Regions from separate parts of the Homo sapiens genome. Here all the other regions are linked to region 2. The links come from fine-mapping of genetic effects on gene expression. A gene starts in region 2. Each other region holds a variant in brackets. All regions are shown on one strand. Distances are from middle to middle.

Evidence for each region.
Region 1: its variant is fine-mapped to the expression of CREB5 in fibroblasts (GTEx, PIP above 0.99).
Region 3: its variant is fine-mapped to the expression of CREB5 in whole blood (INTERVAL, PIP 0.94).
Region 4: its variant is fine-mapped to the expression of CREB5 in whole blood (TOPMed, PIP above 0.99). The same link has a PIP of 0.9 or more in blood mononuclear cells, monocytes, monocytes after interferon gamma and neutrophils.
Region 5: its variant is fine-mapped to the expression of CREB5 in tibial nerve (GTEx, PIP 0.99).

Annotation. Positions count from the first base shown.
Region 1 is chr7:28,312,694-28,319,076 of GRCh38, forward strand. It overlaps a transcript of CREB5 not described here. Among named protein-coding and RNA genes, the nearest start is that of CREB5, 97 kb to the right of the region's middle. The variant T/C (reference allele first, on the strand shown) is at 3,440.
Region 2 is chr7:28,408,750-28,415,132 of GRCh38, forward strand. CREB5 (cAMP responsive element binding protein 5) reads left to right here and starts at 3,769. Exons shown (of 11, transcript NM_182898.4): 1 at 3,769-4,168. The coding sequence starts at 4,166. RefSeq lists silencers at 161-455, 424-493 and an enhancer at 3,766-3,855.
Region 3 is chr7:28,674,160-28,680,542 of GRCh38, forward strand. All of the region lies in intron 5 of CREB5 (cAMP responsive element binding protein 5), which reads left to right. Among named protein-coding and RNA genes, the nearest start is that of CREB5, 260 kb to the left of the region's middle. The variant C/T (reference allele first, on the strand shown) is at 3,254.
Region 4 is chr7:28,681,167-28,687,549 of GRCh38, forward strand. The region is part of intron 5 of CREB5 (cAMP responsive element binding protein 5); the gene reads left to right. Among named protein-coding and RNA genes, the nearest start is that of CREB5, 270 kb to the left of the region's middle. RefSeq lists enhancers at 3,987-4,036, 4,253-4,761 and a silencer at 4,145-4,314. The variant G/T (reference allele first, on the strand shown) is at 3,591.
Region 5 is chr7:28,530,310-28,536,692 of GRCh38, forward strand. All of the region lies in intron 4 of CREB5 (cAMP responsive element binding protein 5), which reads left to right. Among named protein-coding and RNA genes, the nearest start is that of CREB5, 120 kb to the left of the region's middle. The variant A/G (reference allele first, on the strand shown) is at 2,599.

The DNA.
Region 1 (6,383 bases), 96 kb before region 2:
CCTGGTAAAGGTAGGTCCAGGTGTCATCTCCAGAAATTAGTCCCAGGTATTGGTATTTTGTTTTATTTTAAAGCTCCTCGGGCCATTCTAATGTCAGAGTTTATAACAATTGCAGTAATGTATTCCAGTTCTCTTTCCATAACTCATAGTGTTGCCAGTGGTCAAGCCTGAGTGTTGGTAGAGCATCAGTTTCTCATTCCAAAAAGAAAATAATGCAGACCAAAGAACCTTATGAGACTTGTGAAATTACAGAATTGAATGGCCATCCAGTTCAATCTCCTATCTGATGGTTGAATGCTCCCTGCAGTATTCTTGACCAGTGGTAGTTTAGGTCGGTGTTTCTCAAGCTCCAGCAGACATTGGAGTTACTAAAACTGAGAGTGCTGAACCTCAATCCCAGAGTTTCTGAATTAGTAGGTCTGGGACGGGTCTTGAGAAATTTCATTTCTAGTATGTACGCAGCTGTTATTGATACTGCTCGTCTGGGCACCACTGTTTGAGAACCACTGATCTAGATGGTGCTTGAATACCTCTAGTGTCAGAGAACTTCCTGCTTCATGAGCCTGCTCATGCCATCTTCCGAGAGCCTGAAGCACGAACACACTTAATCTGATGGAAAGTTCCTTCTCATATGAACCTGAAACCTGTTTTCCTATCCCTTTTACCTATAGGCTGTTTGTCTTGCCCTTTTGACAGTAGAGTTAAATTTTATTCATCATAGTTTTAACAGAAAGTATTTTTATTACTTTTGGTCTGTGATTCACTGTCCTAAGGATAAAAGACAACCTGACTGTATTGGCAGTCTGATACTATGGCAAAAACCTCAAGCCATTCTAAGGAGGAAAGAATCTGATCTATTCCTGGGAAAACAACTTCAATTGAGCAAATGTATTTTGAGTGCCCAGTGTGTTTCGGGGATGGGAGATGTACAGGTGAACAACCAGTTCAGGGATTTCTGTGGAAGGTGGGAATAACCACTGAAAAACCACTCCTCACTCAATGGATGTAGATTTCTAGTGATGGACAACTCAATACCCCTTCACGGTTTTAACACAGCTTTGTGGACTTGTGACCATTTCAGCAACGAAATGCATATTTTGGCACACACGCCACTTGCTGAAGAAATAAAAATTTAATAGACATATATCTGAAAGTTTCTAGCACTTCAGGGAGATTTTGAGATTTATTCTAGCATACCATACAATGAGTTTTATTGGGAGCTGCAAAAATATATAATTTTAATAGAAATAGGTAAGCATAAAACATTGACACCACTGAAAAAATATTGGCCATGCCAAAGCAACCCCCATAAAAGTTTGCAGAATGTTTCAGAAAAGAATAAGAGAATTATTAAGGGCTGATTTTTCTAGTGGAGCTTTGGCCAGGGTCTCATTTTTAAGGAAACATATCTATGTTTCCAAGGAAAAAGCAGGTATTCACTGCCTTTGAAGTGCAGCGATCCTGATGTTTCTTGTAGCTATGTGAAGAAAGATCATGGAGATTGTTTTGTGCAGGTTTGGTGAAAAAGCTTAATTAATGATTAAAAGCACAACAGTCCTGTTAAACCAGACATGTTTTAGGAAAACACTTCAAGATGAGATGACAGTGCCCTCCTACATTCAAAGGCTGGAAATTCAAGTATTAGAACATTCATTACTTTTTCCTTGGAGATGGTGCTGTCTTTATCATCCATCTTCATCACTTGCTCCAAGTTAAAATGGTTGATTTCTTGCTGCTGATTATAGGGCATGAATCTTAGTCCTATGGAGCTTGAAAGCACGATGGCTTTGTGTTCTTCAGTATCTCTGAGCTTCATTTTCATTGTCTGGTCAAAACCAGGAGAGTAACATCTGCCACACAGATTATTGTGATATATAATGTGAAGATACAGACAACACACACAGCACAGTGTCTGATGACCAAGACATGCCAGTATCATAGTTCATATACTTTGGGGTAAGGCTTAGTGAGCAGCGACACACTACCCCAAGGGAAAGAAAACCAGAAGGGCACTTCCTGAAGGGGAATCTTGCTCCAGGTCCCCAGTGTCTCTTTACTGAGACGCTTTACTGAGACAGTTCTTCCCCAACTGGATCACCGGTGTGCAATTTGACCTTCAGAAGTATGTTGTAGAAAAGTGCTGTACGGTCAGTAAATTTGGCAACTGCTGCCAATGGGCACATCAGCGTGTTGAAGGCTGTAGAAAGCCTAACAGTAGAGAAAACTGTTCAACTTTGTTTAATGTAGCATTTTTCTAACCATATTCCAGTGACAGGAACATATTTTCCTGCCTCAAGACTGGTATGCCTCAAAGCACTGTTTGGGAGCTGCTAATCCAAGCCCTTGAAGTCAGTAGGAGATAAGGGTATCTTATCTTATCCTTGGTGTTTAGTGTGGTCCCAGCCTATACAAGGTATGGAACAGACGCTGGGTGAATAAATGGCTCAATGTATATGTCAATTTCCTGATGATTCTTGCCAAGGCAACGACTTCCTGTGGGCACAATTCATTTGTATTGTCACCACCAACAGGGACTACAGCACAAATCCTTCCCACATAAGCTGGCATTCCTACTATGTTGCCAGTTTAATGAATTTTGTTAAAAACAGACTTCTGACCAGCCAGGGTCCTGATTTGACAATTTTATTTTTTCGGAAAAAGTCACTATGATGACTCTGTTTGCAGCAGTTGTCCGAAGCTGAGGTTGCCTTCTGTTAGCCGCTTCTCTTGGTTGGACCTGAGCAATGGGCAGGTGCCAGAGAACTCTGGACAAGAAGACGCTTCCAGCCGGGTGCTGCAGAAAACTTGTTCTGCAAAAGCAGACAGGAGACACTGAATGAAGGACTCTGTTCTCCAACAACAGATTTCATCATTGTGAGGTTCACATGGGGTGTGTTTTCATTTTGTTTTTCCCTACAGTTTCAATCTTCTTTCCTCCCAGAAAGGGTTCTTTTGTGTTTGACCTCGTCCCGACGCGTTGGAAAACGTCCTGCTGCACCAGCTCTTAATTCACCTTCCTGTGTGGACTTGCCTCGGTGGCAAAGTCACACTCATTAACAAGTTCTTCCTCCCTGGGCTCTGCACATCACCCAGCTATATATCTTCCAATGTGTTCCCTTCTGTGGGGAAATGAGCTATTGCCAGAGTCGGGCTCTGGGACACGGAGGACTGGCTCACTGGCTGGCTGCCCTGGTGATAATCTGGAAGTGATCAGTGGAGGAAAAAGATAACACAGCTGTGATTTTCAAGGAGACAGGTCCTGGTTTTTTTTACCTGCCAACCACATTTCCTCCGGGGAGTTTTTCGGCAAGTGCTGTAAAAGAGACCTTTTAATCTTGTTTCAAAAACCTGGAGACCCAAGTTGTTCCAGATCTTGAGTAGAAAACAGGCCGGGGAAATGTGCATTGCCGAGGAGGCGGGTGGGATGCCATTGCGATTC[T/C]GTGGCTTAGTTTTGCATGTGCTTGAGAGGACTTGGTGAACTTGGCCTTCAAGTGCTTTCACCCACAAGTATGATATGGTTTGGGCTGGGGGTGGAGGGTGTTGCAGAGGTTGATGAACGTAAATCTGTCAGTGGGTGATTTTCAGACATCTGCCTGGAGCACTTGCAGACAAACATTGGAGTCATTGGAGCCAGGGAAATGCCTGACAATGCCTGGGAAAACCTGAGCCAAAAAGCTGGCCCGGGGACACTGCTGGGCCAGAAAAAAAGGATGTGTCAGTAATAAATAGTTTATAATTTAAATTGGGAGCAAAAAGGAGAGAGGAAAAAAAGAAAGAGACAAATCAATCAGGATAGGGAGCTTGGGAACTAAATATTGTCTTTGTTAGGAGTCAGTGAATGCTGCAGAAATGCACCGCCAGATCCTGGCAGTGTCTGCCATCCATTGGGCATCTCGTATCGCTCCTGCCAAAAGCCTGAGCAACAAGGCCCAGGAAGTCCCCAGTGTGTGGTTTCAGAGATTTACTCAACTAGGGCATTTCATTTTTCTTAGTGTATAACTGGCAGAGTTACATCCTATTTTCTAGCTGAAAATTCTACTGCTTAGTACAGCATGATTGAGTCAACAGCTCTAACTGTGGTTACATTTCAGAATACTTTCAAAATCTCCTCACTGATTCACAGTGCAGAATGTATATGGTACATGGCAGCTGGGTTCCTGTGGCTTCTCCAAGCCTCCATATCCTAACCTTTAAAAGGGGGATGATAATACTTGTCTTGAAGATTGTTGAAAGAGCAGATACACTGTTGGGTCAACAATAAATATGACTTCGCCTACCATAAAATGTAAGATTTTCATTCTGAAGGTAAGTCTTGATTTAATGGTTGTCTTCTCTGGCTGGCATACTTGATACTTATAGAACTGACGCCCACATAGGTACTTGGCAGAAATACAAAAGGAGACCCATCCCATCTCCTCCCTGGCAGTATTTATCTGATGATTTTTTGCATTCTGCTGCCCATATTTCTGGTTCAGTTTCAGTTTCTCCCTGTTGCATGGTGTAAACTGACATCTCACACAGAAAAGGAGGGTTCAGATTACCCCAGGAAAGTGTAATGCAGAGAACTCTTCATCAGTGTGAAACCAGGGTGGGCACCAGCAGTGAAAACCTTTGAATCAGAGGTGGATTTCTGGCTGTTGTTTACCACGTGACAAAGAGCAAACAGGCAGTTTTTCCTTCATTCCACCTGGGGTATCCCATAAACTTCAAAGTTCAAAACACACTTTGAGTGGGCAGGGGAAGAGGCATCTTCCTAATAGCCTTGACTTCCTCATCTCTGAATTTCTAAGGCAGCAATAGTTGACGCTGTGGTATAGGCATCAAGAGGCAAAAGAACACAGGAGCTAAAAGCAATGGATTTGCATTTATTCAGACAGACGTGGCTTAAAGCTCAGCTTCACAATCTACAATTATGTAATTTGGGGCATATTCATTTACTTGTTTGATTCCTATTTATCTTCTTCCTTCATTGTGTTGAGAGAATTAAATTAGGTAATCTATGTAATTAGCACAGTGCACTGCACATTGGTAAACATCAGTAAATATTTTTCAATAATAATGTACAGTGTGTTTTATATTATTGTTCCGTACATGTCAGGCTAATCTCTTCATTTCAGCTCTAAGCACCTTAGGAGAAGGACACTGTCTCTATTTGTTGAGTTCTGTATGGAATGACTGCAGTGTAATTGTACCATAGAGTAGATGGCCATTCAGTATTTGAAACATTGGTCAACTATCAGCAGAGAAAGATGGCTCTTGAATCTATTTAAAGCTCTTTAAGTCCTTTAAAGAAATTTCCAAATACACTTCTGAAATTTGCCAGTAATACCAAAACAATATTCCCAAATTTCCAATAAATTCTTATATTTCTAGCCAATTGTTTTCCAAATATATGAAGTTATCTGATTTTAAAACCTGCCAGACATTCCTAGTATTTATTCCTAGAATTTTAAGTTTGGAATGATTCTGACATTCCAATCTACCACAGCCTATGTTTCTTCTACAAATCCTATGATATTAAGCTCATTCCCTCAGTTCAGATTACCACAGAGGGCTGTTCAATTTGATACATGAATGTTGTATTATTGACGTAGCCAATCTGCAATGTATTGGTTCCAAGAACAGGCGGCAATAATGATGCCTCAGCAAATAAGATGCAGATGTTCTAGGAATATCCATGCAAGACAAAAGTGTGCTGCAAAAATGAATAGGTGCTACTTGTAAAAGTATACAAAATTATTTTCTAAGTTTCAAAATATGTTTACTGCATGCCTTGAGGCATTGGTGGGTTAAATTGAAAATGTATTATTCATTTTAGAAAAAGTATGACTAACAATACACATATTTCCAACATCACTGATTCTCTATAGAGCCTCCCTTCTCTGCTACAATGCCTCACTCTCAGGGTTGCCTGAGACAGGAGTTGGACCACATGGCTTGACCCAGGAGGCATGTTCAGGCTGAAAGAGACTGAGAGACAGAACCAGTTCCTGGTTCAGGGATCGTGCCTAAAATGTCCTGCATCTAGTTCTACAGAATGAAATACTAGACTCTTAGAAGAGGCACAGAATATCATCGTAAATACAGCATCCTATGCTGCTACATTGAAGAGGAAGAATTTCAAGGCTCATCAAAATCAAATTGCTTAGGCTTCTGTAGATTGATAATATAACACCTGGAAATAATTATGTGGGGAAGAAAAACAAAAAGTACCAGAAAAGTCCTCCCAAATATCATCTACTCAATAGATTTTGATTCTGGACTGACATTCTATCTGTGGCACTTCAAGCAATTCGACTAAAGGAAGCCCGCTTATCTGTATGTTAAATGTACTAAGTCAGTGGGTGGAGTGACATATGGGGTCATTCCAATACTCTTTTCTG
Region 2 (6,383 bases):
CCTGGAGGAGGTGAGATGAGGGGGCGGTGAAGAAGGGGTGACAAGTGAGTGCTCTGAAAAGCCAGGATGCAGGGAGCACTGAAATGAGGTCATGACTGTCGCAAGCAAAAAGGAGCTGGACATCCTCCGGTGGGGGAGGGAGGAGCGTCCTGCATTTCTGTTTGCAAAGTCTTTTCCCACATCCTTCAGCATCCCCCTCCCCACCTCTCCCCTACCCCCATCCCTACACCTTTCAAACCCCATCAGGCCCTCCCCGCAGAAGAGCCCACGCCCGCGCCTCCTCCGTGGTCTTGTCTGAAACCATAAGGATTGTTTCCAAGCTGACTCACACCACTAATGTCAGGGAGCCGTGTCACACGGCGCTGGGCTCTGCAAGCTGTTGCTTGCGCAGTCGCCCCCGCCGCTGCCGCTCCCGGGCGGGTGCACCAGGGTCCGCGCGGGCGGGGCGGGGTCGGGGCGGGACCGGGGCGGGGCCTGCCCCCTCGACGCGCCGGCCCCGCCCCTCGCTCCGTCCCTCCCCAGCGGACCGCAATGATTTAGAAGTTCAGGAATCCCACGTGACGTCACCGGGGGGGTGATGTAATGCACTCTAAATAGAATGTATTGTAATCTTTGCTCAGTCCAACGTGGTCCCTTCACCCGGGCTCCGCTCTTGCCTTCTCCACACTTGTTTGGTAAGTTCCTAAAAATACGGCTCGGCCACTTCTGGGGCTTTTGCATTTAGCCACTTTTGTTGCACTTGCCGCAGGAGCCATCTCGGGAGTGTACTTGTTTGCAGGGGTTGGTTCTCGGCAGCAGCCGCGAGGTTACTTGGTCCAGTGGGCAGGTCACAGGGCAAGGAGTAGGGAAGATGCGATGCATTTTTTTCTGGAGGGTGATCTGTGTTTGTAAACATTTTGGCGGACCAGAGGGAAGTCCGGCCCCGAGTGCTGGTAGACTGTGGAATTCGGCTGTGTCCTGAGGCCACCCTAGAGACCCCGCGCCGCGTGAGTGCCGGAGCGCTCGGTGGCCGCCGCGCCGCGCGCCTGGAGGGATGCTAACGTGGAGCCGGCGCCGAGTCCGCCCGGCGTGCGTGCGTGTGTGGGAGCGCGCGAGTCCCCTGACGCGGGGACCAGTTATGAATCGGGGGTGTGTGTTTGCCTCCAGAGACCTGGCAAGGTGCGGAGCCCTCCAGAAGTGCGGTCAAGCGGCAGCGGAGACGGCGAGCCAGGAACCTCCCCCCGCGTCCCCAGCTTCCCAGCGTGGCGGCGGAACCCCCGGAGAAAGTTTGCAAACTTCCAGCGGGCGCGGCGAGGACGCCGGGTCACCTAGGGGGCGGGTGGGCGCGCGCGCAGGGGGCTCGCTCTCCCCGGTGCGGAGCTGCAGCTGCCACCTCTCCCGCCGGGCTGCCGGCTGCAGCGGGTGGGCGCGCGCCCGGGGAGGGGAGGTCGCCCTCGGAGGGCGCTTGGCTTTCGCTCCAGGCGCTCCGGGCTGGAGAGCGGCGAGGCTCCGTCCGCTCCAGTCCACTCCTCCGGCCGCCTCCTGCCTCCGCTGCTTTCTTGCTGGCATCGTTACCTCTTCCCGGCCGCTGCCCCAAATGACAGCTCCGGCTCGAGCTTTGGCGGCGCCCAGGCAATTCCCAAGACCTGGCGGCGGAGTCTCCCCCTGCGGCAGATTCTCGGCAGAATCACTTGAACTTTTCACGAAGTTCTTAGAGGGGCAAGATGCGAAGGAAGGAACCAAGGAGATGTTTTCTCTCAGCAGCTGCATCCCGCTTCTTCTTTGCCATAGATTTATTTTTAAGGGGCGTCTGGTAGATAAAGCCCTAGACCTTGTCCACACTCTCACCCCCATCCCCAACTTTCCCTGGACCGGTGCCGCCCCCACTTGATGCTTGCTCAAGGCCGGGGACTGGAGCGGGCTACTTGTATATTTCGTTGTCAGTCTGCAGAATGTGTTTGATTTTTATTTTTCCCTCCTTCTCTGACATGTGTCAAGGAATAAAGACTGGATACAGGTCCATTACGTCATTCTGCAGGCCAGTAAGTGTTTGATTAACGGCTTGAGCTCCTCAAGGGTTCAGGAGCTTAGAATGCTGACAAAGCAACTCTGCTTTGCATCCCCCTACCCTCCCCACAACACACTCGTGCAATCGCCGGCTCCCTGGGCATCTTTATTGCCCTCTCTTCCCAGCCCCTCCCTCTCCACCACTCCCCCGTCTACACCGTTATCACTCTAGCCCCGCCCCCGCCTTTTTACAGCTTTCCCTGGGGCGAGCACGGTCCCTGGAGTGTGGGTAAAAGCTTCTGGGGTCTGAGGGGACCACTGTACCTGATCAGCGCGCAATCCGCCCTTTTGTATTATTTAAGAAAGGCACCAGTAAGCCTTCTCCTCTAGGGCGAAAATGCTTAGTCCTGATAGAAAAGGCAAATCAGGAAATGTTTGCAAGCGTTATGATAATACTCTGTCCTCGTGGTGGTGACTTAGGAAAGCAATACACCCACTGCAAACAAAGTATTTCACTTTACGTAGTGCCTGCCCTTTAGCAGAAGAGGGATGCTGACAAAATCAGGTTTAGCTGAAAGGATCAAGACTAAACGTTTCATTTCCAAAGTGAGGGAATGTGAGTCGTTGAACCTAAACTTCCATACAATAAATTGCTGCGTGCGTTAGTTTCTAGCTCTTAACCTTAAGTTTCTATGTTGAAAGAGGAAGTCGAATACGTAAGTCATTGAACTGAGTCAGAACCTCCGTATCTGGCAGTTGAAATAAAGACCCTGTGTATGACTTGTTGCAAGGGATCAAAGTAAAAAGAACCCTCGGTGTGGGGGGTGGGGGGGTGGGGGCGTGAGGGAGGTGTGCAGCAGAAATTAAATTTAAAAAAGTATTAACAGAGTTTTGGATAGAGGGAGAGAGGGGATTGGAGTGGTCCCTGATTTGGAGTTGGTGAAAACTAAATAAAGAAAAGTTTATATTGCAAATATGTGGGAATTTCTTGAAGAACACATGTTTTCTTATAATTAGATCTACTTTCTTCAAAGCGAAAGCCATGCTGTAGGGTAGGCATTTGTGAAACTCCTGTCTGGGGTCTAATTGACATCCTTCCCCAAGTCTGTGGCAGGATTTAGTATTTATTCACATCTAGAGATGAAATAGTGTAACCTCCACACAATATATGTGCATCGAAAATGTTGAACTTCTTGTTTGTGATGCATAGACTTAAAGGAAAAAAAATGGCCCAGTCATGGGCACTGGAAAGTGTGATTAATGATCAGTGATTTAGTGATCAGTGATTAGTGGTTTTATTCAAACTGTTACCTCTGACCAGAAGCACACATCAGAGGATTAACAGGCTCTTTAGATAAATGCTCATTAGTGGAAGGGGAAAAGCAAAGATAATAGGCATGCACCCAGGGACAACTTTCGAAGAAAATCATTCCCGTCTTCAGAATAATAAGCTCTATTAACAGAAAGCCCTTTTAATTTAAAACTTGCTTTTATCTTGTAAATCAAAGTTAGATGTAAAAGTTTGTAGTGCCATTATAACCTAAATTTTCCCATATCCACTAGATGTGGATTATCTCAGTAGCGATATTTTTTTTTATTTAAACAAACAATTGGACCTTTAGAGCAGCTGAACCCTGACAAGTTCTTAACTCCCAGGGTTTGAAAGTGTCCCCCCTTCTAGCATGGAGATTGCAGCTTGCTAACTAGATGGCGCACTGTTATTTGGTGTTCTCTGCTGCGTAGCGCAGGAGTATAAACTGAGCATGTAGCTGCTTGCGAGGTGTTCTTCAACATTTACAACAAAGTTGATTCTGTGTAGGGTTGGAGGCTAGACAGTTCCACAAATTTTTAGTCACATTTTCCATGTCAGTTAAATCTAGGGAGTTCAAGACTACTGGAAAAATTAGTCTCATTACTAAAAGAAACTTAGAGAACGAGGGAGGTACCAGAGTCTAGGAGGTACCTCTGGGTTGCAGAAGTAATTGTAAAATACCAGACCTGTTCTTTTTACTAAAAGCTAGTTTCACTATCTTCTGGTCTGAAATACTGAGGCAAATACTCAAGACTTATTTTCTTCCTAATCTTGCTGGTGAAACAGAAGTTACTAGAAAGAAAGGAAGAAAAAACTTGATTTGGTGACTGCAGGAAGCAACACGTTGCTGCTTTTATTCTACAGATAATGGTAAGGATGATGTTTATTATGCATATTAAACAGAGAGAAAACTTTGCACTTAGTTAAATAGAACCAATGTTGTATTTTCATAGATGGAATTCAGAAATGGAGTTTAGATTTTGCACAAAATTTTAATGTTGCTTTTGTCAGTTTCCTGGGACTTATAGCATTTTATGTGGAAGGATGTGTGTGTGTGTGTGTGTGTGTGTGTGTGTGTGAATAAGACTATTATTTCCCAGGTAAAATATGTTCAGAAGCATATGAACTACAGTGGGGAAGCTATGGAGCATGTTAAGTAATGTGTCAAGCATGAATTCCCCTTTCTGTGAGGTTTCATGAATCACTTCAATAAGTATTTAAGTTTTAATAAGAAAGTTCTTGAAAAAGAAACCTAAAAATTAAAAAAAAACAATAAAACAGTTTTCCGCATTCAAACCTAGATGTGTATGCCCCTGAAGGATGATTCTATGGGTTGAATATCAACTATTACTTTAGTTCTAAAACTTAAAAGAAGAAGTATAATAAAACTCACTTGTGTCTCCCCAGAAATGTTTCTCATTTTCCTTTGCTTATAGCATTTTATATGGATCTCTTATTTTTAAATCCTTACTGATTATAGTGGTTTTTATTTTTCAACTTAACTCATAGTAAACATATTTGAAAATATCTCCAAGCCCACTATTTTTAATGTAAATTGCTGGTGCCGATAAATTGCCTGTCAATTAGCGGTCAGTCGTGACCTTATATAGTTGATACCTGAGAAGATAGTTTATTAGAACATTCCAACAAAAAATTGGAAACCATGCCCTTATTTCTAGATCTCTGTTATGTCACAGCTTTTATTTGAATAGGTGGCTAAATGAATGGTAGTTTGTCACAGAGACTTTTCCTGCATAGATTTTCAATTCTAGTAAGTTTAAGATTTTTGTTACAATGATTTGTCAGTTTCCCACACCTGCACATTCAAAACCAATCAATCATGGAGTTTCCATGATGGCAAGTTCCTAGACTCCCAATTTCTTACTATAATCTACTTTTTAGCAATGAGGTATCACAATCCTATAATATTTTCTTGTCATTGGAGTTTACTTCTTACTAAGCTAAAAATTATTTTGTCGGTGTGTAGTGTTCACTAGATCACTAAGATGTGAACTTTGTATTTGTAGTTCATTTTCTTCTGGTTATGTTGTTGGATTAAAATTGGGATTTGAGTGGACTTATTATTTTTGTCATCTTTTCTTTCTTCTCCTTCTCCTTCTCCTTCTTCTTCTTCTAAGCAATGCAGTTAGTCACAAAATTAATGTGATCCTGGCTGGTGTTTCCCATCTATATGCTTCTTTTGCTTCTTACAAATTGGATTTCTACAGCAATTTAAGGTCTTTTTTTTTTTTAGAGGCAGCTTTCTTGGATGAAGATGGAACAGTGATCTCAGTCAATTCATTATCTTGTCCACTTTGACTACCAGCTGTATTATGGGAATCAACCAATGCTTAATTAGTGTTTAAAAATTTAAATCTATGACTATTTCTCTGAATTCTATTTAAGAAAATTATACAATTGAGATAAGGTAATAAACTGGGGGGCAATTGCCTTAAATATCTAAGTGTGAGGAAGAAGCACTTTCAGATATGCTAAACAGACTTAAAGACACAGAAGACCCTTTTTGTGTTGCTATTTGTAAAATAAGTAAGCTATCTATTTTGTGGCAATGCTTTAAATACAAAGTCTGGCACTTTAAAAATGACATCATGTTTAATGTTTTCACTAAAGAATTATTACATTTCGTAATTAGGAAAAAAATGAGCAATTAGTGTTTTTTGAGTATCCATTAGTATTCCATTGTTGAGAATCACAAATCATAGATTTAACATAGGAATTTTTTTTTTTATAAAAAGAGAGAAGCCTTTTAGAAATTTCCAGATAGTGATAGCACTCTTCCAGAAACCCCACTAAAATTTTTGAAGCTCTTATTGAGGACTCTGGGACTGTCACAGTAAAAGATAAAGTTTAGGATAAATTCTTGAACCCATAAAAGATATTATATTGACATTTCAATATTTCTTTTTTCCAAGTTCACTGTATTGCCTTCCCCCTCACCCCCTGAGAAATAGATCAGAATCAGTTTATCACTTTAAAAATATGTATTTCAGCTGCTTTCTTCTATTTCCTTAAGGTTACATTTCTGATCTTAACCCTAAAAAGATTTTAGGATTTCAATCCTTAA
Region 3 (6,383 bases), 270 kb after region 2:
AAATTTTCTGCATTACAAGAGTCCCTTTCTTGATGTTTTCAACCATAGGGGAAAGGGATGGAGCGTTTGCAGGAAGGTGTTAGGTAGAAGGAGGACTATTCTCCCACTCAGCTGAGAGTGAGTTGACTTTTAATCTCTTTCCTGAGCAGAACCCAGCTGCAGGAGCTACTGAATAGTTGATGTCTAACAAATGTGTACTTTGGAGTCATCTGAAGTGACTGTTGTACTGACATTGGCTTCCAGGACTCTTTCCTGTCCACTTCCTGGTTTTCCTCCCAGGTCGCTGGCTAATCCTTCTCTGCCCACCTCTTACTGTGAGAGTATCCTGCATGACTCATTTCTGAGATTTACACTGCCTATGGCCTTAAAGAAAGTCAATCAGAATTGATTCCCATTGGATGTCTTCAGCGCAGACCAACCTGCTGAGCTCAGATGTTCCTGTCCCTCTGTTCTCCTGATTCCTCTGCCTGTATGTCCAAAACAAAACTCTGGACGTTTTCAAACCACATGTGATCACAGTCGTCTTCACCACAGTTGGCACAAGCCTGTATCACTACTCATCCAGACTATTGCAAAATATCTTACCTGTTGTCCAATCTCGAATTCTTTCCCTCTGACAGTCTGTTCTCCACACAGCAATTAATGCAATTTTCTTAAAATAAAAATCAGATTATGCTAGTCCCTTCTTTAGACTTTCCAGTGGCTTTTTCTCACCAATTAAAATAGAAACTCTGTAGTGACTTGCAATACTCCACCTACCTCTCCCAGGTTACCGCTTTTCCCTCTCTTTCTCCTTCCCTCCAAGGTCTTCTTTCTTTTCCTGCATGAAACACACCAATTTCCTTCCTGCCTTAGGGCATTTATCTAGGTGGTTCTCTCTGTATACCTCTTCCCTGTAGCCATATGTGGCTCCTTCTCACTAATCAATCCTCAGGTAAAATGTCATCTCTTTGGAGGGGAGTTGCCTAAATATTTGATCTAAGAGTCTTCACCACATCCAATGCTCCCTCTCATCACCATGTTTTATTTTCTTTGTAGCCATTATCACGATCTAAAGTAAGAGTATTTGCTGTTTACGTGTTGATTATCTCTTTCGACCCATTAGAATGCTGGTTCCCTGAGGTCTGGCATCTCGTTTGTTTTGTTTCCTTCTGTGTCTCTGAAATAGAGCCAAGAACTCAACAGCATCCTTGTACAAAACACAGCCCCCAGCATCTTTTGTCCTGGTGTTTCAGAGCCCACCTTCAGAACTTATGACTTTGGTTTTCCCTGCGTTATCAGTATATGAAATAAGGAAAATTTGTCTTCCTCAGCTAAAGTCTTTTGTGAGATGACTTGAAACCAGTGAGGATTAAGAGGGTATCAGGAAATGCAGAGAGAGGTAGTGAAAGGGGAGACGAGAGAGAAACAAAAGGATCTCAATTGTGCTGAGGTTTGGCCAGGCCAGGAGGGATCAAGTAACACCAAATAGCCTTTGTTAAAATAACAGAAACTTTGACAAATTAAGACGGAACTGCCTCAGACTGAGTTATGGGGCCTTCTAGACTCAAAACCACCTACCCTTGCAAAGTGGTGCAGTGTGGATCCTGTTTCAGCTTGGGATAAGGTGCTCATATGGGAGATCCTGTTTCAGCTTGGGATAAGGTGCATTGCTCTGGCAATGCAGAGTTGAGATGAGGAAGACTCTGGGTTCGCCTATAAGAAGTCAACACCAAGGACATTTTTACCAAATGGAAAGGGCGAGTTACAGGCATTTATAGCTTATTTATTTCTGAAAGTCTCTAGAATTTTAAAGAGGATTACTGCCCCAAAGCTAATTCCTTCAGATATTTGTGTCATTCCTAACAATCACTATCTCTTCATTCTCCATGTCTTGGAGAGTCTCTTCTGTCAACACAAAGCTCCTCTGAGTAAGGGGGTATAAAAATCTCCAGCAAGGGTCAGGATGAAATAGGCTTGGTGGCCCTAGGCTAGAAGATAGTACATGACCAAAGAACTAGTTAGGAGGCCTCTTTGCTTTCATCATAACTATCATTATTTTTCAGGTTCACTGCCTCTTCCTCCAAATCTACACACAGATTATTGCATTATTACTGTTACTATTTTCCCAGACATTCGGCACCTATCAAGGTTTTTCATTTTGTCTATTCCCTGGGCTTGTGTGTGTGCTGTCTGTCTCCGTGGCTGCTTCTGTGGCGCTATGACAGTATTAATATGACAAAGAGTTGGTCAAATAGAAATTATGTAAGGAGTCTCATTGTAATTCAGACACTTAATTTCCACTTAGCAGGAGATGCAGCCCTTGATGACTCACAGGTCGCGATCCTCATTCTCCTTCCTGGGTCACTCGTGTTTTTGGGTCTGTGGATAGACTGGCCCTTTCTCCTCTCAAGTGCTGTAGCTCTTTACAAGCCTACAAATTCAAGACTTTTGAAAAACATTGATAACATCCTTTTGGGAGAGTGATGGGTGAAGATCCCCAGAGAAGGAAACTCTGTGCAATCATTAGTATCCAGAGGCCACTGTTGATGTGTAACTAAAGTTCAAGAAAATAATCAAGGTATGCCAGAGTCGTGGTAGATGGGTACCTTGCAATAGACTTCTCCGTTACCACTGGTATCCCTTCCCCCATCCCAGCGTACCCTCCTCATGATTGTCACTTTAGGAGACTAGGAATATTGCAAAATAAACATCTGGAAATGTTGATAGTAAACATAGAAGAGAAATGTCTTGCAAAACTAGCCACAGGTCAGGAAACCCTAATCTTATCATGGGTCCTGGAGACCATAATGCCATAGACTGTTCAGATGGGTGTTATGTTACTGTGAACACAGATGTTTTCTTTCCATCCATTGTGGGCATCCTGTTTTGGAAAAGTCACTATAGCCAATGTCTAAAGGCTTGATCACTTTAGGACAGATTACTAAATACTTTTTATCTTAAAATAGAAGAGGGGAAAGGAAATCACAGCTCCTTTAGAGCATGGACAGCAGAGACATATGAATGTATTTATATATTTTTTTCATTTACGTTATCAACTTAATTAATTTATTTATAAAATTTCCATGACCATAGGATGACCACGTAGAAGTGTGGACTATGGATCACTAGCATCAAAATCTCTGGGGAGTTTTGCTTAAAAATACATATTCTGTCATAGCACCACAGAAATAAGGCCCCACCTTGACCTATATAATCTCCAAGGTAATACCTGGAGACCTACGTTTTAATCTATTCCCCAGACATTCTCAGG[C/T]ACACCACATCTGAGAACCACTGACTGATGTTTGCTGGTTGGAGTGCCAGGCCAAGGGTCAGCCTTCAAGGGATTGAGATTCATGTCTTCGTGCCTGCTTTTCTTTACCTGTAAAAGAGCATAGCTTGAAGTTTAATACAAAGTGAGCATACTTTTTCTCTTGGGGGTTTTTAACCTGGGGTCCATGGTTAAAAGGAGGAGTCAGAGTGTTCATTAGATTTTTCAAGGAGGATTATTGCCCAAGAAAAGTATATTCTAACACCAGCTTAAATGCATGCTTTCCAGTTTGGGTGGGTGCTAAAAGAAAGGAATTGGCCGAGTGTGGTGGCACATACCTGTACTGTAGTTCCAGCTACGTGGGAGGCTGACGTGGGAATATAACTTGAGCTCAGGAGTTTGAGGCTACAGAGAGCTATGATTGTGCCTGTGAACAGCCACTTCACTCCAGCCTGGGCAATGCAGTGAGACCCCATCTCTAAAAATGAAAGAAAGAGAGAAAGAGAGAGAGAAAGAAAGGGCACTGGGATTGGCCCAGACAGTGCATGAATCTCACTTTCCTTCCCATTTCTATTAATAAAGGAAGAATTTTCAACTTTGTAAGAAATAAGAAATTTAGAATCTTTTTACTCCTAAATCTATAGAACACCTTGGACATCATAATATCTACTTTTCCTCTTGTAAGAATGGAAAAGAGGCTGGGTGCAGTGGCTCACGCCTGTAATCCCAGAACTTTGGGAGGCCAAGGCGGGTGGATTACTTGAGGTCAGGAGTTCAAGACCAGCCTGGCCCACATGGTGAAACCCCGTCCCTACTAAGAATGCAAAAATTAGCTGGGTGTGGTGGTGTGCGCCTGTAGCCCCAGGCACTTGGGAGGCTGAGGTGGGAGAATTGCTTGAACCCCGGAGGTGGAGGTTGCAGTGAGCCAAGACGGCACCACTACACTCCAGCCTGGGCGACAGAGTGAGACTCTGCTCAAAAAAAATAAAAATAAAAATAAAAATAAAAGGAAAATACAAGCCTGCATTATTTATAAATCATATAGTACTCCATGTCTAGAAAAATCAAAACTTATACCAAAGCATTTAAAAGAGTCACTATGATCATTTTATTAAAGTTTAGAGATGAATTTTACCATAAAGCAGGATTAACTGCACCTTTCTCTCCAGGATTCTGGTGTAAATAGAGAAACCACAGTCATGTATGGGCCTGAGAGGGACAGTAGAATGTGGAAGTGGGTTTGGAAACCAAAATATTATGTCAGCAGTTTTCTCTTTCATTTATTCACCCTTATCAAAACCAACTTTTTAACTCAGGGGCCCAGTTAATAAAAACATAGATAATTTCATTTGGAAGACCCAAGAGCTTCATGTTTGGGGTTTAAAAAAAATTCTTCTCATCCCCTCCGGGCAAAAGTGTTGGAGGGCGAATTCTCCTTGCAGAAACCCTCTTAATAAATCAGTGCTGGTGAACTTCTCTGCTCAGTGTAAGAGAAGGTCAGTTATTAGATAGACACAGAGCTCTACAGCTGGAATCCTTGTGGAAAGAAATGAAACCACAAATACAATTCCTTAGTTTAAGCTTGCCTTTTTATTTCTAATACCTTCAAAACCTCTTCAAACTCATTTTTACTTTTGTAGTTCTTTTTTTTTTTTTTTTTCATTTAAGCATGTTTTAACAATGAAAACAGCCAGCGGAGTATATTTTCAGGGTTATCCTGCAGATACGTAAGTAATCCTTTTCTGAGGGCCTTTATGTGGAATTGCAAAGTGCTGAGGGGAGACAGAGGGAGAATATTCAGAAAGCAGATACTGCAGTGTTTTGAACTTATCATGTGCAAAGGGACAACATTTTTCCACTGATTATGAAAGTCCCCATGAACTGCTTTTCCAGATAAAAATTCTCAGCAAATGATGGTCAGCTTCTGGCAGCCCCAAGTTTTCCTCTCTGTGAAATGGGGAGACCCACCAGGGCAGCCTTGGAAACCAGTGGCTTAGGGGTTCCAGGAAAGAGGCAGGCATTTACTTTGCAAGTTTGGCTCAGAGTGTGGGCCCTGATGAGATTTCAGGGTGTAAAAGGGAGGGGACGAAGACCAGGTGAGCAGTGTAAGGCCTTCTTAGGACCCGAGGGAAGTGGCCTTCTACATTTCTTACTTTTTGATGTTATGCCACAAAAATGCTCTGTTCTTCTCTGCCTCTACTCCAACCCTCATCCCTTGGAAAATCTTCCTGGTCAGAATCATGATGTTCCTAAGATGGTTGTCTTCCCACATTGCCTCTCCTGATTCCAGGGCCGGTAACAGTGCTTGCTTCTGGACACATGGATTAACCCAGGTCATGAGGAACACCTGGATTATAAAAGGTGTTAGTGTATCAGTACAAAACAGCGAATGGTCGCATTCCCAACTTTGGTATCAGACAACTTTTAGTTCAGCTCTCAGCTCACAGTGGCTAATTGAGAAGAAGGAAAGGCTGATGAAAGCTGACACTAAGGAAGAGTCTAGTCTGTTGCAGGCATCATTCTCCATCTCCCCAAAGAGCCAGGCAGGCCCAGAGCTTCACCTGATATTTTTCTACTAACCCTACCCATGCTCATGAGTACACAGAGTAGAAAATTATCTCCAAACGAGGCTGGGACTAAGGGGCACAAATGAGCCCCCTATGGCTCAACATTTAAGGGGGCAATTATTCTCAGGGTTGGACAATTGCAGACCTGCACCTGAGAGTGAGTACCTCCTTAAATTTTGCACCCTAGGCACCTCACTTGCTTCAACCTGGACTGGTCCAGTCACCACCCTTGGTCAAAGGGGAAAGTAGGAATTTGGTTGATAATCTCCTTTAACCAAGGTTCCCCACAGAGCCTCCAGGAAAGGCCTCTTTCTTGGACATCATCAGTTGGGTTGTCCACCTCTCCCAAGCATAACTGCTCTGAGCCAGTCTTGATCAGCTACTATGCCTTGTCTTGGCTCCACTCAACACCAGAACATGAATCAGTGTAGTTAGTCTGACAACATCATTAGGCTCCAATCCCGTATAAACTTTTACCCACAAAAGTTTGGACCTCCTTGGCCGAGCACTATGGCTCACACCTGTAATCCCAGCACTTTGGAAGGCCAAGCTGGGAAGATCACTTG
Region 4 (6,383 bases), 270 kb after region 2:
AGTAGATTTCCTAGGATTTTCTTATTATAGGTTTTCTAGATGCTTCAGATCTTTAGGAAGCTGCATAAAAAGTGTGAGCAATAATACAAACAGGAAAAAGAACTTTCAGGAGGCAACATATTCAGGGAAGACCGAGCAGCCTGTGTTGCCGCTAGTTCAGGCTCAGTTACATTTCTTTTTCTTTAATTAATTTATTACTATTATTATCATTATCATTATTAGAGACAGAATCTTGCTCTGTCTCCCAGCCTGGAGTGCAGTGGTGCGATCATGCCTCACTGTAGTCTTGAACTCCTGGGCTCAAGTGATCCTCCACCTCAGCCCCAGTAGCAGGACTATAGATGTATGCCACCACGCCCAGTCCCAGTCACATTTCTTAGGGACCTACTATGTATGGGCCAGGTGCTAGGTGCTAGGGAAATGAAGATGTATAGCACAGTCTCTGCCCTGGAGAAGCAAATGGCTGCTGAAGAAGACAAGCATGAAGAGATCCTCTCCATAGCTGGCTTATTGCTGGGATACAATCTGCTTCAGGACGCCAAAGGAGCACAGAGTAATGGCCACCCTTATCCCAGTCTGGTAGCCCAGCAAGGAGACCATGGAAAAGATAATGCCTGAGCTGAGGATTGTATTCATTCATTCACTCATTCATTTATTCAACAAATATTCCAGGAGTGTCAACGGTCTTTCAGACATTGGTTTAGGTTTAAGTGGTACAATGACTTGCACATTTTAAGAAGTTAGAGAAAAAACACTATAGGAAGCAGAATTGATGACAATATTTTAGGGCTAATCAAATGGCTCTTGTGACCTCTTAATATCCACCCCCAAAGGTTTCCTGATGCCTCCACCATTATAAATTCATTCCTTTGTTTGAGACACATTCAGCATTGCCACATCCGTGAATTACAAATAGGTTTTGACACAGGAAAGGCCAGTGAATTGCCTAAGGGTACTTAGTGCCAGGGTTGGGGTATAGGAGGTGCAGTAGTTACACGACAGGAGTCACCAAGGGCAGATCACTCCCTTGTCTTCTCTCTGGGAGCACCTGGAGCTGACTTCAGCAGGGCTGACAATTTAAGCCAGTGAATCCTGCCTGCACATGGTTCAGGATGCATGCTGCACCAGGTCACCTAGGCGGCCCCTCATCCTCTGTCCACTGTGAAAACACGGGACACCCAGGTCGAAGGGAATGCTGAATGACACCATGTGGGTGTGCAGTGGTCTGTGACCAGAGGGTTCACTGGAAGCAATTTGCAAAGGAGGACTTAGAAAACCACCTGGATGGTTATTGTAAATTAAAAAAGGAAGAGATGCCACTTTTTTCTGAATAATTTTTAATACTAGGTTTATGGCTGGGTACATGTGATAGTCATTACAGCTTATTTAACTCTGAAATTATCTGGCCCCTCAAACTCCACCGGGACTGTAGAAATCTTGGGTTAAATTTTAAAAACAACATTTGAAAGAAGATGATATACTTTTCCTTGAGGAGAATAAATTCAAACCTAAAAGTGGGGGGGGGGGGAAACCCCAGCTCTCTCTAGGAAGGATCTCCATTGTTTCTCATATTTGCTATGTTTCTCATAACGTGTTTGAGCTCAGAAATTCACCCAGGCACACAAAAGGTCTACTCTAGTTGGCTGTTGAGCCCCTCCATCCCTGCAATCCAAGTTGTGCCTTTTCTATTGGGTTATTTGGAAAGAGTCCAAAAGCATTCTGAACTCTGAGCTCAAATCTCAAAGGTTTCCACTTCTTCGGAGCCGAACATTTCATCAGGGGCTGGGAGTGTGTGAGTGAGTTACACCGAACAGCTGCGCGGTACCCACCACCCTCTCCCCAAGGATGACACGCTCTGCAAAGGAGGGTGTTGTAAGCATTCCTGAGCAAGCCAGCTAATCTGGAGACCTAGCCTGTTGGCCGGGGGCTACTTCTAAGAAGCCTCCCTCTGGAATTACAGCATCTTATGACTTCTATCTACGAAGCCCCCCTTCTTCAGAGGAGCAGCTAGGACATGGGGTAGGGGAGAAGGCCAAATGGGTGAAAAAGGAATCTCTTGAGTCAGAGGGGCATTTCTTTTTGGGAACAGGATCTTGTCTCTCTTTAGCTGCTCACAGGAAGGAAAATGGGAAAGTAGGGCTTCTTTTCAAGTGGGGAGGCACCCAGCAGCCAGTGGAATGCCTGATTTGGAAGGGGCAGGAGGGAATAGTTATGTCCCGAACAACAAGTGCAAATGTAAATATGCAGACCTTTGAACTCTGAAATTGATTTCAATTCAGGCCAGCACTCCAAAGTTGTTTTATTGGGATGTCGAAGTGTTCTGGCACGTTGGTGGCTTAACGGCGTCATCATCAGACCCAGACATTTCTGGGTCCTTGGCATTTGTCTGGGTTTTAGAAACACTGTACCCATTGGCGATGTCACTCCCTGATCAGAGGCACACTGGCCACCTTCAAACCTCTTGTTCTCTTACTCCTCCTGGCAGAAGCAATGATGCTGGCGGGTCTCATCTGAGATCCGTGCCCGGCATTGGCTGAAGCTATCATCTCCTTTGTTACTTCCCAAGCAAGGCACAGGAAAGCCATCTTTACATCACCTCTATTTAAAGCACAGGGTCCCTTTTGCCTATGTCACTGAAAAACAGCAGAAGCCTGGTATCTAGTGGATTCACCCCGGCCCTCTAATGTGGTATAAGGAAAATCCTACAGAGAACATTTTCCCATTGAGCTTACAAAAAGATGTAAATTTGGAAAACTCTACCACATATCCATTTTGCACCAAAAATAGTAACATAAATAAAACATTTAAATAAGAAAACTAAAGTGGGGAGGGGAGATTTGGGGGGTAGGGAAGGGAAAGTGAAAGTCCATAGCTTGATATTAACCAAGATGGTCAATGGCTCATTTAAAAAGGAAAAAGTAGCTTATGCAAAATCTTGCCAACCTGCCTTGAAGTGTAAAGGCTTGTAGAAGTTATTGAAAATTTTGTTTTATTTATTCCCCTTAGCAGAAGAAAAATCAATGTCTGCTTGGCAAGTCAGACGTAAATGAGTTATACAGGCCACTGACATGGTGGACCAAACTTTATAACAACCACATTTGCCGCTGTCAGGCCACAGGCTTCAGTGGCGCCAGCTGTAATTATGGCTGATCACCTCTAATTCAGAGCTGCCTGCCTTGATAAAGGTGTCACTCGGAGCTACTGTGGCATCAGCATCAATTGAGGATGTCAAGCCAAAGGGCAGCTTGCTGGAGAAAGCACTTCCCCACCCCAACCCCCAGGGTCCTGGAGACCCTTGGGCAAATATTGCTTTTTAACTCTTCACCCTGAGTACGGCAACACTCCCTGAAGCTGTGATTTAAATTCCAGGGGATTCAGATGAATATCCCTGACCTCCATCAGTGGACGTCTTTAATAAGCTGAGAGATTTCTCCAAAAACACAGTTTAGAAGTCAAGATCCTCTGTGCTTTGCAACGTGCAGAGACAATGTTTGTCTTATCTACCTGATTCATTGGCCACAAAAGGCATTAGGGGCAATAGACTGTAGCACAAGCCATGGTCATTTTTGGAAAAGGAAAAAAAAATTGCA[G/T]CTTCATGCCTTTCTTCTGCTTTTGTGGTATTTAAAAAAAATTCTAGCGAACTTCCCATTTTCATGTTACTTTTTTCTTTTTGAAGGAAACATGAAGTGTGGGGAGAAATAGCAAAACGGAGAGATGATGGGGTTAAAAAGCCCTGCTAATAGAGTAGTGTCTGGACTGTTGTCATTGTCGTGGTGGAGCCCTGAGTGGGGAGGTGTGAAGTGAGGGGTAGAATTCAGCCATTAAAAAGGCTTCACTGTCATTTGTGAAGGATCATGCTTGACTGCCCCCACCTCCCCAGGCTGTTTTTCCTCACTCTGTAATTAAAAAAGAGACACACATACTGTCTGTTCTCCTCTTTAAAGTCACAGACGGCCCCACCCACACCAGCACCCCCTCCAGCGAGTTGAGTTGTGGGGGCACAGCCTGTCTTTCATTTTAAGGGAGAACTTGTCTTCCTTCCCTCTCCTTTGGAAGGTTCACCTGAGGGTGGAGTGCTAATCTCAGAAAGGCAAGTTTTGTGTTTTGTGGCTGGGGTCTTTTTCCTTTAGCACCTGACAGGGTGACCCATAGGGGCCAAGGGAGAAGTGACTGTGATTTCACAGCCCTTGGTGGCTCCAGACACGGGCACGTGTTTGGACCAGAAGTGGTTTTGCCCTCGCTGACAGGGAGGTCAGATGCGAGAAGTCTCCGGAGGGCTGGTGGTTGGCATTCAGCAACAGAAAATCCCATCCAGCTCCAGGAAAAAAGGGCCCTGGGCGATGGAAACCCTGTCACCTGGTTCTGAACCAAAGCCCAAGCTGCTAACTGAGGTTAGTTTTTCACACTCAGACCTTCCAACCTGCCATCTTTCACTCCCTGCTTCCCCATCTCTACACGTGTCTTGATGTTATTTCCCTTTCTCCAAACACAGGGCACTCTTTTTTTTTTTTTTTTTTAACCAGTATTTTTTTTTTGTTTCCAGCAGAACCAGCTGACCCCTGCCTGCAGAACTCCGGGTCCCTCTTGGAGCTCTCTGATGGCAGCTGTAGGGCCATCCCCAGCGGCACTGTTTCCCCCTTTGTTTACCCGTTTCTAAGGGCAAGTGCACCACGAAGGCTCTCCGAGCCTGGAACTCAGCCTGGGGCTGTTTTGGTTACATTGAAGTTTTTGCTTCAGTTCTGCCAGATTTAAGTGGTGACTTCACTAGCACTGAGCTAAAAAGGAGAAGGGGGAGGAGGGCGAGACCAGGAGAAAGAGAGCAAGTGAGCGAGAGCCCAGCCGGAGGGAGAGCCAGAGCTAGGCGCAAAAGAAGGGCCAGCACATTACATCATCGCTTGGCCTGGAATCAAATGGGAAGGATATGACTCACTCAAGCTAGTTAAGCTTTGGCTCAAATTCTACACACACTCATTCCAGAGCTCTCATGTTCTGCACCTCAGGAGGGAATTCAGCCTCAGTGATGTCCATGAGGTTTGTTTTTAATTTTATTTTCTTTTCTCCTGATTTTATAGATTTTTTTTGCCCCTACTGCCTTCTGTTTTTGAGCCTTCGTCCTCCTCCTCCTCCTCTTCATTTTCTCCCCCTTCTCCCTTTCTGCCCGTCTTTGTTTCTCCTCTTCTTCCTTCTCCTCTTTCCCCAGCCCCTCCGCTCCTCTTCTTGCCCGAAGAGGCATTTCTTTTCACTTCGATCAGAGTTTTTGTTCTAGCACAGAGACCTGAATGAGTTGAACAGAGGCCGGGTTGGAGGAAAAAAGAAAAAAAAAAAAAAGCAGAGCAAACCAAAGCAACCAGAGCAAAAGGGCCACAAATAAAGAGCGAAGCGAGAAAGAGCAAACTCGGGCGAAGTTTCTTTGCTGCGGTGTCGCTCCTAATCGGAGGAGACAGGGAGAGAGTTAAAATGCAGGAACCAATCGCTTGAATGGTGATGTAATGCAAGAACCGAAGGGTAGTTAAGTAATGTGAGAGCGAGGGGGTCAGGGTTGCAAAGCATTTACCTGCTCTCAAGGGGTTTTCAGTTTATTATCAATTGCAGTGACTGTAACCGGCTTCAGACTGCAATCTCTAATTATTCACAGACGCTCCTTTTTTATCTTTTATTATTAAAAGTAAAACTATATTATGGTATTTTAAAATAACACGATATTATCACAGCTGTGTATTATTTTCTGCCAGGATTCTCTCTCTCTGTTTTTTAAATGGCTTAAAACTGTTGTCTTTTCATAAAAGGTGGAAGTGATGGTGTGGTGGTTGGTTGGGGGGTTGGGGGGGCGATTTTTGAGTGTAACTGGTGAATTGTAAATGACTGGAAAACTGTGTGTTGTATGAAAAGTGAATGATTGTGCTGTTCCATTTATTATTAAGAATATACTGCAGCTTTTAAAAGTAATAGATGATGATCCTCAAAAGTAGTTATAGCCTTTCCCCTATTATTTCAGTGAAGGTTAACAGCAATTGTGCATTTGCTTGAGCATGTTGACATTCTGTTGTTCCACGTGCTAATTAATCCGGTGCTATCTTTAAGACTTTTATGTTCTTGAATTAATTTTTTAGATGATATGCTTCAGTAGTGAGGGGGCGATGATGAAGACTTCTTGATTGAGTTGTCTTAGAAACAGTTAATATTTCAGAGTAAGAAATTAACAGGAAATACAGGGAGAGGGGGCAAAGGATTGTGTTCTTAATGTTTTAAGGATCTCGTGTACTCAGAGAGAGAGACTTTGATGTTTTGAAAATTATTACCACATTTCTGTTTCATAGAATAGATTTCGTATTGTGATATGCTGCCTGAGTTGGGTGCTTTCTGACACCATCCGGCATTACTAG
Region 5 (6,383 bases), 120 kb after region 2:
GTGCAGCTTATCAAAGGGAACAAGGTTCACCATCACTGAGACCTAGGAAGGGGCCGTGGTCCAGCTGGACCCTAGTCGAGCTGCTCAGGGGCAGCTTGGGCTGTCGTCCAGGGTGCACGAAGCCATAGCCAATGTCAAGGGCTCCTAATGTCCAGGCAGGAAACTGTGACTGAAAAGCTGAAAAAACATATGATCCCATAAAAAGCTGCCTTTGGGGAAACAAGCCATTAGTCAGCCTTATTTATTTTTCCTTCTTGCTGCAAAGTTCAATACAGATGAAGGAGCTGCGATTATCATATAAAAGGCTATGCAAAATGGCCCTCCCTCTACGCTGCTGAAGAAAACTTTACCCTGGCTTTTCGCCATAGTTAGCTTTGTTTGTGTTCTTCAGATTCCGAGTCCTTTGACCACAGTTGTGATGGCCCAAGTAGAAGCGCAAGTGTGTCTCAAAATAAACAAGCAGTGCTGGAACTCTCTAGAGTCCCCACTCATCTCCACCCGCAGTCCTGCCTTTTATCCTGGCTGATGATGGAGGCCAGAGGAAAGGGATAGTGGTGGCCTTATTAAGACAAGATCTTCTGCGGGAAAAATATGCTTAATGAGCTTAGGAAAAACCTTGTGGTCGTGGAATGTAATAAAATTTCCATTTTCTTGGGTGAGATCAGGAAACCTTGACTGTCTATTCTGAGTTTTTGCCAGTTTTACTGGGGAATGTGCTTTTTGAAGGTCAAATGTTGTTTTTTTTTCCCAGTGGGTGGCGGGGAAGAGGCACAATATAATGTTTTGGGGAAAGCCCCATGGTCAATCCATGGGTGCAAAGTAACCAGGCCTGCTTGTCTTATATAGTCTCTTGGTCTCTAGGTTTTTTTTTCTTTTCATCTCTTAATTCCCCATGGCTTCGGTAATAAAGTACCCTAGACTGGGTGGCTTAGAACAACAGAAATGTGTTGCCTCACAGCTCTGGATGCTTGAAGTCCGAGATCAAGGTGTTGGCAAGGCTGATTTCTTCTGAGAGCTTTGAAGGAGGCACTGCTCCAAGCCTCCCTCCTGGCTTCGAGTGTTTTGCTGGCCATCTCTGGTGTTACTTGTAGATGCATCACTCCAGTCTCCACCTTCATGTTCATATGGTGTTCATCCTGTGTGTGTCTGTGTCCACATTTCCCCTTTTCATAAGGACACCACTCATGATAGATTGGGAGCCTACCCTCCTCCGGAATGACCTCATCTTAACTAATTACATCTGTGATGACCCTGTTGCCAAACAAGGTCACATTCTGAGGTCCTGGGGATTAGAACATCAATATATGAATTTGAAAAGGAGGGATACAATGCAACACGTAACACCATCTCATAGACTCATTAAACTTTTACTTTACATAGGAATTCTGAAACCAGGCCAACAGAGAGGGGTATGGAGACCCTAACTAAAAACTGAGGCTAGCCGGGCGTGGGGGCTCACGCCTGTAATCCCAGCACTTAGGGAGGCTGAGGTGGGCAGATCACGAGGTCAGGAGATCGAGACCATCCTGGCTAACATGGTGAAACCCTGTCTCTATTAAAATACAAAAAATTAGCCGGGTGTGGTGGCACGCACCTGTACTCCCAGCTACTCGGGAGGCTGAGGTAGGAGAATCGTTTGAACCCAGGAGGCGGAGGTTGCAGTGAGCTGAGATTGTGCCACTGCACTCCAGCCTGGCAACGGAGCAAGACTCCGTCTCAAAAAATAAATAAAAACTGAGGCTAAAACTTTGTCAGTGGAAAATTATTACTTCAACGCAAGACACCAACATTTGTGAAACAGGGTTCTGTAGGGGTTGGGGAAGCCAGAGCCATGCTATGAGGACACTCAAGCAGCCCTGTGGAGAGGTCCACGTGGCCAGGAGCTGAAGCCCCCTGCCAAACAGCTATAGGAGAGACTCATCTTGGAAGCAGATCCTCCAGTCCCGGTCAAACCTTCAGATGAATATAGCCCTGGCTGATATCTTGACTGCAACCTCATAAGAGTGCCTGAGCCAGGACCATCCAGCTAAGCTGCTGCTGAATTCCTGACATAGAGAAACCGTGAGATAATAAATGTTGTTTTAAGCCACGAAATTTTGTGGTAATTTGTTATGCAGCAGCTGCATTGCAAAATTGTTATCCAGAGATCTAATACAGCTCCTGGCACCCCAACCCTGGAAAAGCAAATCTGCCTCTACTTTGTGAACAGTGTCATCGTGACAACTTCAGAGGGAAAGAGTCCCAGACCAACAGTGCCTCGGGTCTCGTGGATCGGAAGGTTTTCTTTGTTTGTTTGTTTGTTTTTGTTTTTTAAGGAAATGGAGAAAAAGGAACTAACAAAGTAATTGAAAATTGGTATATTTTATTTACTACAACTACAAACACATTAGGCTAAAGCAAGAACTTTGTTCATTTGATCAGCAGGATAACATAGTGGTAAGAGCACAGAATTCCAAGCCAAAAGATCTATGTTTGTATCCCAGCTTTTGCCAGCTATGTAATCATAGGAAGTTACTATACCTCTCACCCTAAGTGTTCTCATCTGTCAAATGGGATAACAGTAATAGCACCAACCCCTTAGACAAGAGTTACTGTGGG[A/G]AATAACTTAGAACTGTGTTTAGCACATAATAAGATGTGAGAACACAGGAGTGGGAAGATCCACTTATGACATAAAATGTCCCACAGTTAGAGACATAGGATGCTTGTTGAAAGAGCCAGGCTTGGATCATGAGGTCAGGAGTTCAAGACCAGCCTGACCATGATGGTGAAACCCTGTCTCTACTGAAAATACAAAAATTAGCCGGGTGTGGTGGTGCACACTGGAAGGCGGAGGTAGCAGTGAGCCGATATCGTACCATTGCACTCCAGCCTGGGCAACAGAGCAAGACTCCATCTCAAAAAGAAAAAAAGAAAGAGCCAGCCTTTAAGGAAACGGGAAGTCAAAGCTTGTGTAACGAAGCAAGACCAGACTTTTTAAATCTACCTCCCTTAACCTTTATAAACATGTGGACATCATAAACTTTAGGGAAAAAAAGTAATTGTCCCCAGTGACAGAAGGGATGGCGAGACCGCATAACTTGTTCCGGGCCATAAGACACATGGACACTCTGGTGACCATACCTGTCCCCGCACAGTTGCTGTCCTTTCCTGTCGTGCGTACCTGCACTTTGCATGGAGACACTGACTTCAGTCATACTGTCAGTAAGTCATTTCAGAAAGCACCACAGGATTTCCGGAAGGACATAGCATTTTAAAATTCTACTGGGTAAGAACTAAGTTCCCCACTTATAATTTCTAAAAGGCTAAGGGTTATTTTTACGGGTTTTTGAGCTCTCCATTTTACATCATGTCCTCTGAGAAGTTTTCAATGAGCTCAGTCCTGTATTGGGCAGAGGCTGCCTCCTCTTCTGTTTTAAAGGAGCTTGAAATTCTTTTACTTCTTGATACAGCAACCAAACCTGAATATATTGTGAGGTTCCCATCCCAAGTCAGAGCTCTTGAGGGGAATCATCCTTGTCCTCCTCTTCTTCCTCCTCTTCTCCTAAATGGTGCTACATAGGCTGGCTTAACATCTTTTTTTGAAATAAAAACCAAGTGTAAACATGAGTCAGAATGACAGGGCATATGCAGGACTCCAACATTTACTTTTGACATGAGTTGATTTTCAGTTATGTTCTGAGAACCTAGATCCTGTCATCCCAACCCTGGAAAAGCAAATCTGTATCTATTTTGTGAACACTATGATCCTGACAACACTGGGGGGAAGAGTCTCAGACCCACAGGGCCTCAGGCCTCAGGAATAGGAATTTCCAGAAGAAAAAAATAAGGACGCTTTGATCCACTTGCCCTTCGTATTATTGTCTCCCTGTGCAATTTGCTGGAGAATTTCCCACTGGCTCTTGGCTCATTTTCAAATTGGAGTGCAGTCTTTCAGAGATTACTCTGTGTGCTGAAAAACAAGGAAGTCTTTATTGAGTAGGATGAGGAGGCCCTGCCTTCTAGGAAGGGCAATAGATGCTCTGGCCTCTGTGTCTCAGCCCACCCTGCGTCCTCCCCCGCGAGCCCTCTCCAGCTCAGCCCCTCCCTCTCCCAGTGGAGGAGAAGGGCTGGGTGGACCCCTTGCCTTAGGCTGAAGGGAAAACATCTTGTAAGCTATGTAGCAATTGAGGCAATCCCTCCTGTAATCGTGGGGCCTCTCAGAGTTATTACTGAGCAAGATGACAATTCCAGCCAGCATCCCAGTGTAACAGGGCACTTCTTCTGCAGCCACTTTTCTCCAAACATGAGAATTTTCAAACAGGAGTCTCAGATAATATTTCCTTCTCTTCATCTCGACTTCCTCTTTCATTTACCTTACTTTCCTTCACTTATGCTTGTTTAAAAACCCTGGATTTTCAGACACCATCTGCATCATCATCTTAACAAATATTTATGTAGTGCTTATAGAAATTAATTTTTGTAATCCTCACAATAACCCTATGAGGTACACGCTATTATGTCCCCATTTTGGAGACCAGAAAACAGGCCCAGAGGGATAAAGTGACTTTCTCAGGGTAACAGGCCTTCTAAGTGAGAAAGCCCAGGTTTGAACCTAATAGTTTGACTCTGGAGTCTGAGTTCTCAAGGCCCTGATGTCCCGTATCACCTCCCAGTTATTTATTTATATTTAGAAATGTACTCATCCTTGGCCATGTGTTTCTTACCTGAGGGCTTGCGGACTGCAGCTCGCATCTCTGGTTCCTGCTGGTCCTGGTGAATTAGGCAATGGGATATTGTGGCCCCTTTGCTGTCCCATGGTCACCCCATCTACACCGGCTCTTTAAGGCCCAGTGTGGTCACACGAAGGCAGCCTTACAAGGAAGGCTAGGTCGGGCCCAATTTGGTAACAGACTCAAGTCTTTTTGCAGGAACATTCATACTTGTGGATTACATAGTAGAGGTTTTTCCTCTACTGGCTGCAAATAGTCCTCTGTGGTTAAACCAATTTCTTTAGGAAAAGTGAAAGGAGGGAGGGAGGGAGGGAAGGAAAGAAGGAGGGAAGGATGGAAGGGAGGAAAGGTGGAAGGGAGGAAGGGAGGAGGAGGGAAGGAAAGAAGGAAGAAGAGAGGGAGGCAGGGAAGGAAGGAGAGAAGGAAGGAAAAAATGGGAGTAGAAGTCTCATAATATTTCCTTCTCTTCATCTCGACTTCCTCTTTCATTTACCTTACTTTCCTTCACTTATGCTTGTTTAAAAACCCTGGATTTTCAGACACTATATCATCTTAACAAATATTTATGTAGTGGTTATACAAATTAATTTGTATAGGAGAGAAAGAGGGAGGAAGGAAAAAGAGAAGGGAAGGAAGGAAGAGAAAAGAGAAAGGGCAAGAAGGAAGGAAGGAAAAAGGAAGAGAAGTAATGGAAAGGAGAAAAGAAGGAAGAAAGGGAGAAAAGAATACTATTGATGTGGTGAGCATGAATTTTCTAGGAAAGGTTCTTTCTGCCCTCCTAGGCTAACCATTTCTATTGCACTCCTTTTTTTCTCCTTGGTTGGGCTGTGCTAACTTCTGTCCCACCAAAAGCCTACATGGTAGAACTTGGTTATGTTCTTCAGGTTTCCAATCTAAAAGGACGGAAAATGAAAAAAAGAGAAAACTGTGTTACAACTTAATTAAAACACATCAGGTCAAATCATAATTCTGAGCCCAGAGCTGTAAATGGGTCCCTCAGAGACCCTGGGTCTTTCTTGTGCCTGCTGAAGTATTTATTGTCACAAGTCACTCCTCATAGAGTGTCTTGATTTCCCCATCTATGTTGCAGAGAAAACACGCTGTCTGCCTATGTCTGCTGAGAAACCAGCAAACAATGTTCAAAAAGCACCTTGAGCCTATAAGGTACACGAAGGGGGATGCTGTTTAGTTTTCTCTTTCTATTTCAAAGTCATAGAATAGTCTCAAAAGAACAGTGGGAAAAGCGTGCCTTGGACTTCGCAGAGCCGTCTAACATTGCACCTGTGTTTCCTGATCCCCTCTCAGAGTCTGTCTGTTTCTTTTCTCCCACTCTATCATGAGGTAAGGCGCATCTCCTTGGAATGTTGTCCTTGCTGCCTGCTTGCCAACTGCAGCGCTCCCTTCCAGCTCTGAAGCTCAGTGATTCTCCTAGTGGTAGGAACTCTGTCTCTGCTGTTTTCAAGCCTGACCCAGCTCAGACCTGAACTTCCTTGCATTAGGGTTTGGCAGCTTCACGAGGCAGCACTGTACTGGCCTGGCCAGCCTGGGGCTTGTGGAATCACCTACTGAATCAGGTTTACCTCTGGCATTCCAGGCAAGAGCCGGTCATCAATCCTAAATTAACATTTTTGATAGCATTAGTGCCTTTACTAATAATATCTACTACTGTTTACT